Linked DNA regions of Homo sapiens: region 2 is linked to region 1. A link means that fine-mapping ties the variant in region 1 to the expression of a gene that starts in the linked region. Tissue or cell type: whole blood. Region 1 holds a variant in brackets; the other region holds the start of a gene. All regions are shown on one strand. Distances are from middle to middle.

The links. PIP is the estimated chance that this variant, and not a neighbour inherited with it, causes the effect.
Region 2: it holds the start of AMDHD2, and the variant in region 1 is fine-mapped to the expression of AMDHD2 in whole blood (TOPMed, PIP above 0.99).

What each region holds. Positions count from the first base shown.
Region 1 is chr16:2,594,874-2,602,552 of GRCh38, forward strand. PDPK1 (3-phosphoinositide dependent protein kinase 1) reads left to right here. Exons shown (of 14, transcript NM_002613.5): 12 at 920-977; 13 at 2,250-2,402; 14 at 2,778-7,679. The coding sequence ends at 2,894. Among named protein-coding and RNA genes, the nearest start is that of FLJ42627, 40 kb to the right of the region's middle. The variant T/C (reference allele first, on the strand shown) is at 4,280.
Region 2 is chr16:2,518,290-2,522,289 of GRCh38, forward strand. It overlaps AMDHD2 (amidohydrolase domain containing 2), which reads left to right and starts at 2,082. Exons shown (of 11, transcript NM_001330449.2): 1 at 2,082-2,252; 2 at 2,480-2,616; 3 at 2,695-2,834. The coding sequence starts at 2,170. ATP6V0C (ATPase H+ transporting V0 subunit c) reads left to right here. Exons shown (of 3, transcript NM_001694.4): 2 at 929-1,112; 3 at 1,252-1,929. The coding sequence ends at 1,456. RefSeq lists silencers at 1,948-2,057, 2,228-2,297.

The sequences.
Region 1 (7,679 bases):
CACTTTGGGAGGCCGAGGCGGGTGGATCACAAGGTCAGGAGATCGAGACCATCCTGGCTAACACGGTGAAACCCCGTCTCTACTAAAGATACAAAAAAAATTAGCTGGGCATGGTGGTGTATGCCAGTGGTCCCAGCTATTCGGGAGGCTGAGGTGGGAAAATGGCTTGAGCGCAGGAGATTGAGGCTACAGTGAGCTATGGTGGCGCCACTGCTCTCCAGCCTGGGTGACGGAGCAAGACTTTGTCTCTAAAAACAAAAATCTCTTGAACTTTTAGGAATCAAAAGTGACGTGTGCTTGCTAATAATGTATATTAAATTAAAGCCTCTATGTGAATCTTGCTCTTTGAATTTCTGCCGTCTCTGAATAAAAGTGTTTTACTATGATGGAAAAACCAGAGGAGATGTTCTTACGTCCAACTTGGGTCTGTCAGAGCTTTGTGATTATAAACGGCTCTGTGGATCCTGAGCACTGAATCAGGGGCCCCAGCTTGTGGGGTAACTTGAGGGCGATCATCTCATCCAGTTGTTGACTCCGCGGGCAGCCACCTTTCGGGAGGCAGTTCTGCGCCTCACCACAGCTTTGTTAAGGCAGCAATGACCTGTGTCACCTGCCCGTTTCTACAGCACGGTCCTCCCCCACCTTTTCCCCGCTGTGTGGATGTCACTGGCAGTGAGGGGGCAACAGGCACTGTGTCTGGTATCTGCAGGCTCCGTTGCAAATACGGATTAAGGCTCTCTGCGTGGCAGTGCTGTATGTGCTGGGTTACATGTGGCGAACGTTCTCTGCTCATCCCAAAGTGAGGCTGGCTCTGTGAGGGGCAGGCCGAGGCTATGGGGAGTTCGTGTGGCAGGAGGAGCGTGGAGAATTTCTGTTTGTGATTGTCATGGGAGCATCTCTTTCTTGTTTCTTTCCACAGGCACCAGTTTGTAGAAAATAATTTAATACTAAAGATGGGCCCAGTGGATAAGCGGAAGGTGAGTGGTCAGTGGTCCCGCTGCTCCGCACGGACACCTGCATCTTCCCCGACTCCAGCTTAGGGGAGGGCAGCTTGGTGGCGTGGAATCCTTCCATCTCTTGATTTTCATCAGACATCATCTCTAGATTTCATAGCTCGGGAAGGCTTAAGTCCCTTGAGAGAAGCCATGTGGAGCCACACGCGTAGGCGGTTAGGGCAGTGCAGAAGCAACCGCCCACACTCCTGGGAGCCTGGGGCTGCCTGTTTTGAGGTTTCCGTCAAGTTGAAGAGGCCACATGTGATATCTTAGCCAGTGGTCTAATATTTCTTTAGAAGTGTTTCAAAACCATTTAAGGGTTGTTCTTTATTTTTTTCTTTGAGATGGAGTCTTGCTCTGTCCCCCAGGCTAGAGTGCAGTGGCGCGATCTCGGCTCACTGCAAGCTCCGCCTCCCAGGTTCACACCATTCTCCTGCCTCAGCCTCCTGAGTAGCTGGGACCACAGGCGCCCGCCACCATGCCCGGCTAATCTTTTTTTGTATTTTTAGTAGAGACGGGGTTTCACCGTGTTAGCCAGGATGGTCTTGATCTCCTGACCTCGTGATCCACCCGTCTCAGCCTTCCAAAGTGCTGGGATTACAGGCGTGAGCCACGGCGCCCGGCCGGGTTGTTCTTTATTTTATGGATTAAATGGATCCAGCACTTAGCAAGTGGTCTGTATGGAGCCAGGCAAGTGTGTGGATGTGCTCAGGTATTTATTTGGTCATCTTGTACCTTTTTCAAATATAAATCATATTACTTCTACAGTAGAACGTCAGATCAGGAATTTCAGTATGATTAGACAGAACACAAACCAGTAACTGTTAGCTTTAACCCTTGGTTAGAAAATATTCAGCTCCAGGTGCTCACGGGGCCACTTCCAAGCGCAGGCTCCTGGCCTCTGTTCCTGGCCGTATGTCCTCCGCAGGCAAGGATCTCGGTGCAGGTGGGTGGAGGCCGGCTACCGAGAGCAGGCTTCTGTCCCAGGCAGAGCAGAGGGGCCAGGGGAGCCATGGGCCCGATCTGGATGGGCTGTCTGCGCCATCTCAGCAGCAGAGGCCTGTGCTGCATCCCCTGTGACCTTAGAAACTGGGCCTGGTGGGGCAGGAAGTCCCCTGCCCCTGGGTGAGTGCACAGGTGGTGGTGGTGGCCCTGTGTCCTGAGCAGCTCCGAGGGGCCGCCCAGCCCTCTAGGCTCCAGGAGATGCCGTCAGCACTGGCCTCTGAGGCCTGTTGTTTTGTGTTTTGGCGTCAGGGTTTATTTGCAAGACGACGACAGCTGTTGCTCACAGAAGGACCACATTTATATTATGTGGATCCTGTCAACAAAGTTCTGAAAGGTGAAATTCCTTGGTCACAAGAACTTCGACCAGAGGCCAAGAATTTTAAAACTTTCTTTGTCCACACGGTGAGTCTGTTCCCAGGGATTTCTGTGTGCAGGGTAATGGGAGGGCTTTGCACCACGTGGGAAGCAGCCACAGGCCTTGGCCAGAGGGAGCAGCGGGGATCGGGGCAGCTGCCTCGCCCTTTCCGACATCCCAGACGCCCACACTAGTGGCTCAGTCCTGAGGGGGCAGGGGACACCCTGTGCTTGTTTTTCAGTTTGGTGGTGACTGGGGGTGGTGGTCATCAGCCTGTGTAGTTGCTTACTGCTTGTGTGAATAACCGTCACACCCACGTGCTTTCAGGACTCGGAATGGCTGGTCGCAGGCAGCTCACCAGGTTGGGGTGGGGGTTTTGGTGGGACTCCCTGGAGAACACTAAACGGCTTCTGTCTTCGCAGCCTAACAGGACGTATTATCTGATGGACCCCAGCGGGAACGCACACAAGTGGTGCAGGAAGATCCAGGAGGTTTGGAGGCAGCGATACCAGAGCCACCCGGACGCCGCTGTGCAGTGACGTGGCCTGCGGCCGGGCTGCCCTTCGCTGCCAGGACACCTGCCCCAGCGCGGCTTGGCCGCCATCCGGGACGCTTCCAGACCACCTGCCAGCCATCACAAGGGGAACGCAGAGGCGGAAACCTTGCAGCATTTTTATTTAAAAGAAAAGAAGAAAAAAAACACCCAACCACACAAAGAACAAAACCAGTAACAAACACAAAGGAATTCAGGGTCGCTTTGCTTGCTCTCTGTGCTCCGTGGAGGCCTCCGTGTGCCCTCGTTGCCGTGGGGACCCAGCTCCATGCACGTCAACCCAGTCCCGCCCAGACTAGTGGACAGACCTGGTGTCACCAGTTTTTCCTAGCATCAGTCCGAACCATGCGCCCGCCCTGCCCCAACTGTGTGCTGGTCCTGCTGTGGCCGAGGGGACCGGGTGTGTTTGGCTCTTTATGCCCCTCCCGCTGTGGTCCTGGAACTCTTCACCAGGGAGGGAGCCCTGCGGGGGCCGCAGCTTTGTGGAGGGAGCCGCCGTGCTTCTGTCACCTGCTCCCTTTCTTGCGTCTCCCTGTGATGGGCCCTTAGGCCTGGCTGGGCCCATTACATATCCCTGTGGTGGCTCTGGTGGCAGCTTTCTGTGGCCCCTGCTGTGTTGGCAGGCAGGTTTGCGTGGTGAGGAGCGGGAGGGGTTGGAGTGGTGCGGGAGCAGGCTGCCGAGTGGAGGGTGCCATCGAGGGCTCCGGATCCCTTATCCTACTTAGCAGTGTTGGTCTCTGGGGCTGGAAGCCGAGCGCATGCTGGGAGCGGTACTGTCAGAAGTGAGCCCAGTTAGTACCCCGCTGGCTCACTGCACGAGAGAGTCCTGCCCCGAGCCCTAGGTGGGGCCAGGAGGTGCCTTGGAGAAGCCAGCCAGAGCAGAGAGGGCTGCTGACTTCCGTGTGGAGCAGAGAGGCCTGAGGGCCTCCTAAAAGGTTTAAATGTCCACGCCTCTCCAGTTGCTGAAGTAGGGTCTGAGAGAACCCTGGCATCAGCAGACCCAGGGTGCTTCTGTCTCCTGCAGACCACGCCAGGGAGTGCAGACACCACCGTCACACACGCCCCTTTTGTGTTTTGGTTCAAGTTTCTCAGAGCCCCTCAGAGCTTCTACATCTGTGCATCAGAAATCTCACAGCCTTCTCATGCTGCCGGCTCATCTGGGCCCATAGAGTGGGCTTTGCCAGTTGCTGTTGCACAGGAGGCGAGAACAGCACACTTCAACCCCAGCTTGCTGGTCGGCTTTCCTCTAGAGAGAGCCGGTTTTGGGGCCATTTCCCTTTGATGCTTTGGTGGCCTTGCCCCGCTCTGCAGCACAGACAGGCCAGATGCATTTGTCCTTTGCCTAGCTACTCCCCAGGTAGAGAGTGCTCC[T/C]GGTGGCCTGGCAGGTCTGGGCCCTTCTCTCCCTGCCCAGGTTGTCCCTGGAGGGCAGCCCTCACTCCCTTTGGGGGAGAGGCAGACATTGCTGCCCACAGACCTGCCTCTGACTCAACTGTGTCCACCCTCCCTGGTCCCTACCCCCAAGTCACAGGTGACTCAGCAGTGACCCTGTGTGCCAGGCCAGATCCAAACTGAGAGGGAAGGTGTCGTTTTTACACTGCTAATGACGAGAGTGGCTCTTTTTAGCTAGGCGAGTACAGACGGGGCCTGGGAGGGGGCAGAGATGTTCCCCAGGCCCTGCCTGTGGTTCCTGCCTGGGCCTTGGCTGCTGCTGTGTGAGAGCTGCATGTGAGCCTGTGACCGTGAGCTGGGGTGAGCTGGGCCGCACCTACCCTGGGGCCCCAGGGAGCAGGACGCTCCGGGGCCCAGCACGTTGCCCTGGGCCTGTGGCCGGAGTCGGAGTCCTCTCTCCTCCTCCTGGCTTTTGGAAAGGCTTGGCTGTGTTGGGGAGTCTCTCTTAGCCCTTTCAGGAATTTCTGTTCAGGCTTCCTCCTCCTCATCAGCTATTTTACCCATCTCAGAACGTCCTGTGTCTCCATGTAGGAGAGTGGCTCTCTCAGATCTCTCAGGGCGTCTGGTTATAGGGAAACAAGTGGAGCAGGGACGTGGCTTTAATTGGAGCACTCGGCTGGGCTGCTTGGGGAGACTCTTCCGTGCGTTCTTCCTCTGGATAGAACCACCACCTCCTGGGCGTCACTGACAAGCTCCATCTTAACCTCCAAAGCCACAGAACTAGGGGCTCAGAGCCAGAGCTGGCAGCCGCCAGCCAAAATGATGCCATTGCCTGAGCTGACAGCCAAGCCCTTCTGTGGGTCACCTTTCTCCTCACCCAGCCCCTTGCTCTTCCCTTTTGAAAGGCCCGTGTGTTTTCTTTCCTTACCCTGTGCTTGCTCATGTCTACTCCGGTTTTCTCTACCACATCCTTAGAGCCATCACCTGGCACGCAGGCGCCTTACATTCTACGGTAGAACGTGGGGTACTGTGTGTGCACATAGACACACTTACGTGGAATTACAGTTGTGGGTTTATCCAAGATGAGGAAGATTTCACCTGCTGTTTAATAGACTTGGGGCCATGTGCCTCCCCACACATGGGCAAGGACAGGTGGAATGTCGGGACCACACTGTGCGGCTTCTCGGCACAAAGCGGAGGGAGGCTGTGGTCGCTGCCGGCCTAGGTGTCCCAGGTGCCCCGCCTTTCTCTGGGACACAGTTGGGGGCTGGCTTCTGAGGGATTCCTTTCTCCCCTCTTTGTGTGGCCCCAGCCAGGGCGGTGGGCAGTCCTGGTGTAGAGCACAAGCCTCTCCACCCTAGAGAAATGCCTCTGTACCACGGCTACCATGTGGAACCTTAACTTGCAGAAGGCTTGTTAACAATTGTTTTGAGAGAGATGGCTGGTCATGCCACAGCTGCTGGGGACTCCGCCTACTCCAGCCCTCTTGGGACACACTGTGGGATTTGTGGCCCTTCCCCAGAGGAATTGTGGAGACTGTCCCATGGAACAAACCCTCAGGCACCAGCACAGGGCTCTGGGTGACTCAGTAAAACTAACGTTTGTCTCTGACAAGATCAGCTGTAGGCTCACCGGCCAGAGAAGACCACTGTGAGCATTTTGCCGTATATCCTGCCCTGCCATTTGTTCACTTTTTAAACTAAAATAGGAACATCCGACACACACCGTTTGCATCGTCTTCTCCCTTGATATTTTAAGCATTTTCCCATGTCATGAGTTTCTCAGAAACATGTTTTTAACAATTGTACTATTTAGTCATTGTCCATTTACTATAATTTATCTGACCATTTCCCTACTGTAAAATACTTAAGACGGTTTCTGATTTTTCCACTATTTAAATAATGCTGTGATGAATATCTTTAAAATCTTCTGATTTCTTACTTTTTTCCCCCTTAGATGCCTGGAAGTGGTATTTTGAGGTGAAAGAGTTTGTTCATTTTGAAGATATTTCTGTCTCTCTCTCGACCTGATGTGTAGACGCTCACTTCCAGTAGCAGAACCACCTTAGTTGTGTCTTACAGATTCTGAACAAATCGGTTTCTGATAAGCCATGTGTTCCAAAGAATGTCTGAATAAGACCGCTCTTTATTTAAATGCTAAGAGGATGTCACTACTGCAATCCATCTGTGGCCGATTTTTTCCAAGAGCCAATTTCCTTGTTTTGGTTGCAAGAACCTGGCTCTGCCTGCATGTCAGCTCTCTGCCCTCCCTGCTGCCGTGGCTTTCAAGCGCTTGGCAGAATCTTGTACTTCGTGTCCACAATGGTACTGAATTTGCATCTGCACAGTCAGCAGAGATAACAAGTGTTGAACTGACCTTGCCACATGCTTAGTGAGTGATTTGTAATTAAGTTTATAGACTCAGAAGGTATATTAGGACATTTGGAATCAGTAGCAGAGCAAAGCCTCTTTGAAAAAAACCACGTAGCTGATTGGGTTTTACAAGAGTGCATTTGTCTCCCCCTTCCACCCGTGGGGCCCCACCTTCAGGTCTTAGTGGTTCACAAGAGCCCAGCAGCCAGGCTGGCTTTTTCATTGTAGGGCGTGGTTGTCCCAGCTGGTGTAGATTTCAGGCCGCCCCCCCCAACTCCCTGCCCACAGTGTTGCAGATTGCCTGGCTGGCAGCAAGTCCAGACCACCCAAATTTGGTTGGATTCTTCATTTCTCCACTGTAGTTGGGGTCCATTGATTGTGCAGGGGAACGTGCAGGAGGTTTTTCTAGGCACCGTGTTCAGTGCTGCTTCACTCTACCAGAGATTATGGCCAAATTGCACGGAATTTGGTTTCTTGCCCTCTGAAGCCTGAGGGCCCCCCCTTGCCTGGCTGGTTGACAGACCCGGGGTGGTCACTGCTGAGACTTCAGAGATCGCAGCTGCTGTGAGAATACGGTGAAGGTACTTTGTTCTGGAAGATGTTGTCATACACTTTTCCCCAGTTATTTTCAAACTTGACATGAGCCTATGTTGACTCACTGGGTGGGGGTCCCTTCTTACGCAGCACACGTGGCAAGTGCCTGAATCGGGGCTGGAGGCACTTCAGAGCCTCTGAGGGGCCACCACTTCTGGCCCAAAATTGCAGGGTTGTAGATGAGGCTGCCTGTGGAGAACTGGTGTGAGGAGGAAGCTGTTTCCAACAAAGAGCACTTTCATCTGTTGAGATGGCTGTGGTGAGCAACTGAACGAGCCTACGTGTGTACCTGAATTTTCCCCGTAACTCATTTCTTCCATATGAAGAAACACCAAACTATGTACAGAGAACTTTTTACAAAAGGCAGACCTTTTTTAAGCTGTGTAACCCACATAGCCTAACCACCTGGCAGAATG
Region 2 (4,000 bases), 78 kb before region 1:
ACTGAAAAGAAAGGCAACATTCTCTTGGGAGAGGAAGGAGGGACAGCTCTGGAGGAGACAGGCCACCCTGGAGCCCAGCCCACCAGCACTGTTGCGGTGGGAGGCTTGGGCCCTCTGGCCAGGCTCCTGTGTGCTTGGAGCCACCCCGTGTGCAGGGGAGACCTCTCTGGGAGGTCAGCTGAGGCCTCGTAGTTGGACTGTTGATGATCCCCGTCGTCTTCTCTGCCCCCATCCTCTTCTTGGCTCACCCTGTCTCCTGTCTGGTAGAGAAGATTCTCCAATCTGTCAAGGGTTCAGGCCTGCTGTGTGGCTGAGGGTGCTGAGAGCTGCCCTTTCTGGCAGAATGTTTGGCCCTCCTAGGTTAATATTTGGGGCTGGGAGCGTTGGGGAGCTTGGCCTGGGCAGTGAGTCAAGGGAGCTCTGGCCTGGGTGACAAGAGTGGCCAGGTCAGCTGCTTCTGACCCTCCGGTCACACCCTGTAGCAGTGGCTTTGCCATCCCCAAGACCTTTGGTGGCTTTTCCAGCATGTTGTCCTGGGCAGTAGCCCCAAGGGTCGACTGACCCTGACCCCACATGGGGGCTGCTGAGGCTGCACTGAGGCTCCCTGGGGTGACAGGTGGGTTCACTGCAGAGCCAGGAGCCCCAGATGGGTCACGCCGCCCCAAGAGCTGCTGCTGGAGGAAGAGCTGGACTCTGAGGGTGGGGGCCTCACGTAGAGGAAGGAGGAGTGGCTGTCCTGGCCTCCTTTTGCTTGCCCGTGGCTGTTCCTCCTGGGTCCTCTTGCCCTGGGCTGGATGCCTTCTTCGGCTCCCCCTCTGCATGTGATAACTTGGGGTGGCCCTTGGAGCTGTGCCAAAGCTACACCTCGGGGTCCTAGTCTCAACTGGCCTGCGTACTGCTGTGGGCTCACCCCGCCTTCCTCCCACAGCCCTGGGCGCTGCCTATGGCACAGCCAAGAGCGGTACCGGCATTGCGGCCATGTCTGTCATGCGGCCGGAGCAGATCATGAAGTCCATCATCCCAGTGGTCATGGCTGGCATCATCGCCATCTACGGCCTGGTGGTGGCAGTCCTCATCGCCAACTCCCTGAATGACGACATCAGCCTCTACAAGTGAGCACTGGGGTCAGGCCCCTGCCCAGGGCTGGAGGACTGCAGGGAGGGGGGCGGTTCACCTGTGGGTGGTGACCCGGACCCTTGTCTCCCCCTGGTTGGCAGGCTGCTGATGTCAGTCCTCTCTTCTCGCCCCCAGGAGCTTCCTCCAGCTGGGCGCCGGCCTGAGCGTGGGCCTGAGCGGCCTGGCAGCCGGCTTTGCCATCGGCATCGTGGGGGACGCTGGCGTGCGGGGCACCGCCCAGCAGCCCCGACTATTCGTGGGCATGATCCTGATTCTCATCTTCGCCGAGGTGCTCGGCCTCTACGGTCTCATCGTCGCCCTCATCCTCTCCACAAAGTAGACCCTCTCCGAGCCCACCAGCCACAGAATATTATGTAAAGACCACCCCTCCTCATTCCAGAACGAACAGCCTGACACATACGCACGGGGCCGCCGCCCCCAGTAGTTGGTCTTGTACATGCGCAGTGTCCTAGTGCCCATCGTCTGTTTCCCCGGCCTTGCCCCCGCCCGCCCCGTGCCGTGGACATCTGGGCCCACTCATCGCCCCTCCAGGCCCCCGGCGCCCCACCCCCTAGAGTGCTCTGTGTATGCGGATGATTTAGAATTGTCATTTCTCTTTACTGGATGTTTATTTATAAAGATCTGGCCTGTTCCTGCGTCTGCGGAGCGGCCCTTGTCTCCCAGCTATCTATAACCTTAGCTAGAGTGTCGCCTTGTGGGTTCCTGTTGCTGAGACTTCCTGGATGGAGCCGCCCTCACCGCCGGGCCCGTGGCCCTGCGCGGAGCTGTGTCCAATAAAGTTCTTGGATGTGACGGGCCTGTGTCTGCTCAGCTTGTTGGGGGCGGGGGCGGGCGGGCGGGCGGGCGGGCGCCGGGCGCTGCCGGTCACGTGGGCTGGCTCGATCACGTGGGCGCGGCGGTCACGTGGCGCGCCGCTTCAGTCAGCTGAAGGTCACGTGGGCGCGGTCTCAGCTCTCGGCTGGGGTTCGTCACTGGGCGCGGGATTTGGCCGCCGCGGGGCTCCGGAGCCGCTCGCTCCCGACACGGCTCACGATGCGCGGCGAGCAGGGCGCGGCGGGGGCCCGCGTGCTCCAGTTCACTAACTGCCGGATCCTGCGCGGAGGGAAACTGCTCAGGTGGGCGCGGGCCGGGGACTGCGGGGCTGGGGACCGGGCGGGGTGCAGGGTGCGGGGCCGGGGACCGGGCGGGGTGCAGGGTGCGGGGCCGGGGACAGGGCGGGGTGCAGGGTGCGGGGCCGGGGACCGGGCGGGGTGCAGGGTGCGGGGCCGGGGACCGGGCGGGGTGCAGGGTGCGGGGCCGAGGTCAGGCCCGCGATGCGAGCGCCCACCCACTGCGTCCCCAGGGAGGATCTGTGGGTGCGCGGAGGCCGCATCTTGGACCCAGAGAAGCTGTTCTTTGAGGAGCGGCGCGTGGCCGACGAGCGGCGGGACTGCGGGGGCCGCATCTTGGCTCCCGGATTCATCGACGTGCAGATCAACGGTGCGGCCCGGGGCCGGCAGGGGAACCCAGGGGAGGAGCTCTGAGCTCCATGCGACACTTCCTTTTCTGTGGCTGCAGGTGGATTTGGTGTTGACTTCTCTCAAGCCACGGAGGACGTGGGTTCGGGGGTTGCCCTCGTGGCCCGGAGGATCCTGTCGCACGGCGTCACCTCCTTCTGCCCCACCCTGGTCACTTCCCCACCGGAGGTTTATCACAAGGTGAGGTGAGGCTCCCTGGCTGAGGTGGAGGGGGCTCCCGGAGCAACCAGCGCCCTCATTTTCAAACTCACGCCCCACCCCCCACCCCCAGCACGTATTCCATGGTCCTGAGTCTGGCCTCCTTTGATGACCGGATCTGGGCCTGGGTCCCGCCCCTGTGCTTCTTTATCAGTTGTCGCTCTGCCTGGCCTCCCTAGACCCTCTGTCCTCCGCAGCTGTCTCCACACTGCTGGCTCAGCACCGTCTGAGCCATAGGCCGTCCCCACCCCCTGCACTGCACTCTGGCTGCCTCCAGGCTTCAGAAACCATCCCCTTAACCAAGGCCGCAGGGGATTCTGTGATTGGCACAGCGATAGTCCCTGGTCAGGCTCTTCCTCCCTAACCTGTCTGATGTGTGACTCAGTGGAACACGCCTTCCAGAAGAGACTCCCCCTGCTCCTGTACTGCTTGCCCCACGCTTCCATTTTCTTTCCTGCCCGGAAGAAATTTGGTTGTCCTTGGTCTTTTTTTATTTTAATTTTTACTTAGGTTCTACAGGGTTAACTTTTTGCTGTATGTTACTACTATTCAGGCTCCTCTTGGCTGTACCTGTGCTACTGTTTTTTACTGAACTATTTGAGAGTAGGTTGTATCCAACATGCTTTTTTTTTTTGTTTAGTTTTTTTTTTTTTTTTTTTTGAGACGGAGTCTCGCTCTGTCGCCCAGGCTGGAGTGCAGTGGCACAATCTTGGCTCACTGCAGGCTCCGCCCCCCAGGGTTCACGCCATTCTCCTGCTTCAGCCTCCCAAGTAGCTGGGACTACAGGTGCCCGCCACCTCGCCCGGCTAATTTTTTGTATTTTTCGTAGAGACGGGGTTTCACCGTGTTAGCCAGGATGGTCTCGATCTCCTGACCTCGTGATCCGCCCGCCTTGGCCTCCCAAAGTGCTGGGATTACAGGCGTGAGCCACCGCGCCCGGCCAGTTTTTGTTATTTTTAAGAGACAGGGTTTCTCTCTGTGGCCCAGGTTGGAGTAGAGTGGTGTGGTCATAGCCCATTGCAGCCTCATTCTTCTCTGCTCAAGCGATCCTCTTGCTTCAGCCTCTTGAGTAGGTAGGACTACAGGTGTGTGCCACCATGCCCAGCCAATTTTAACATTTTTTGTAGAGAAAGTCTCACTGTGTTGCC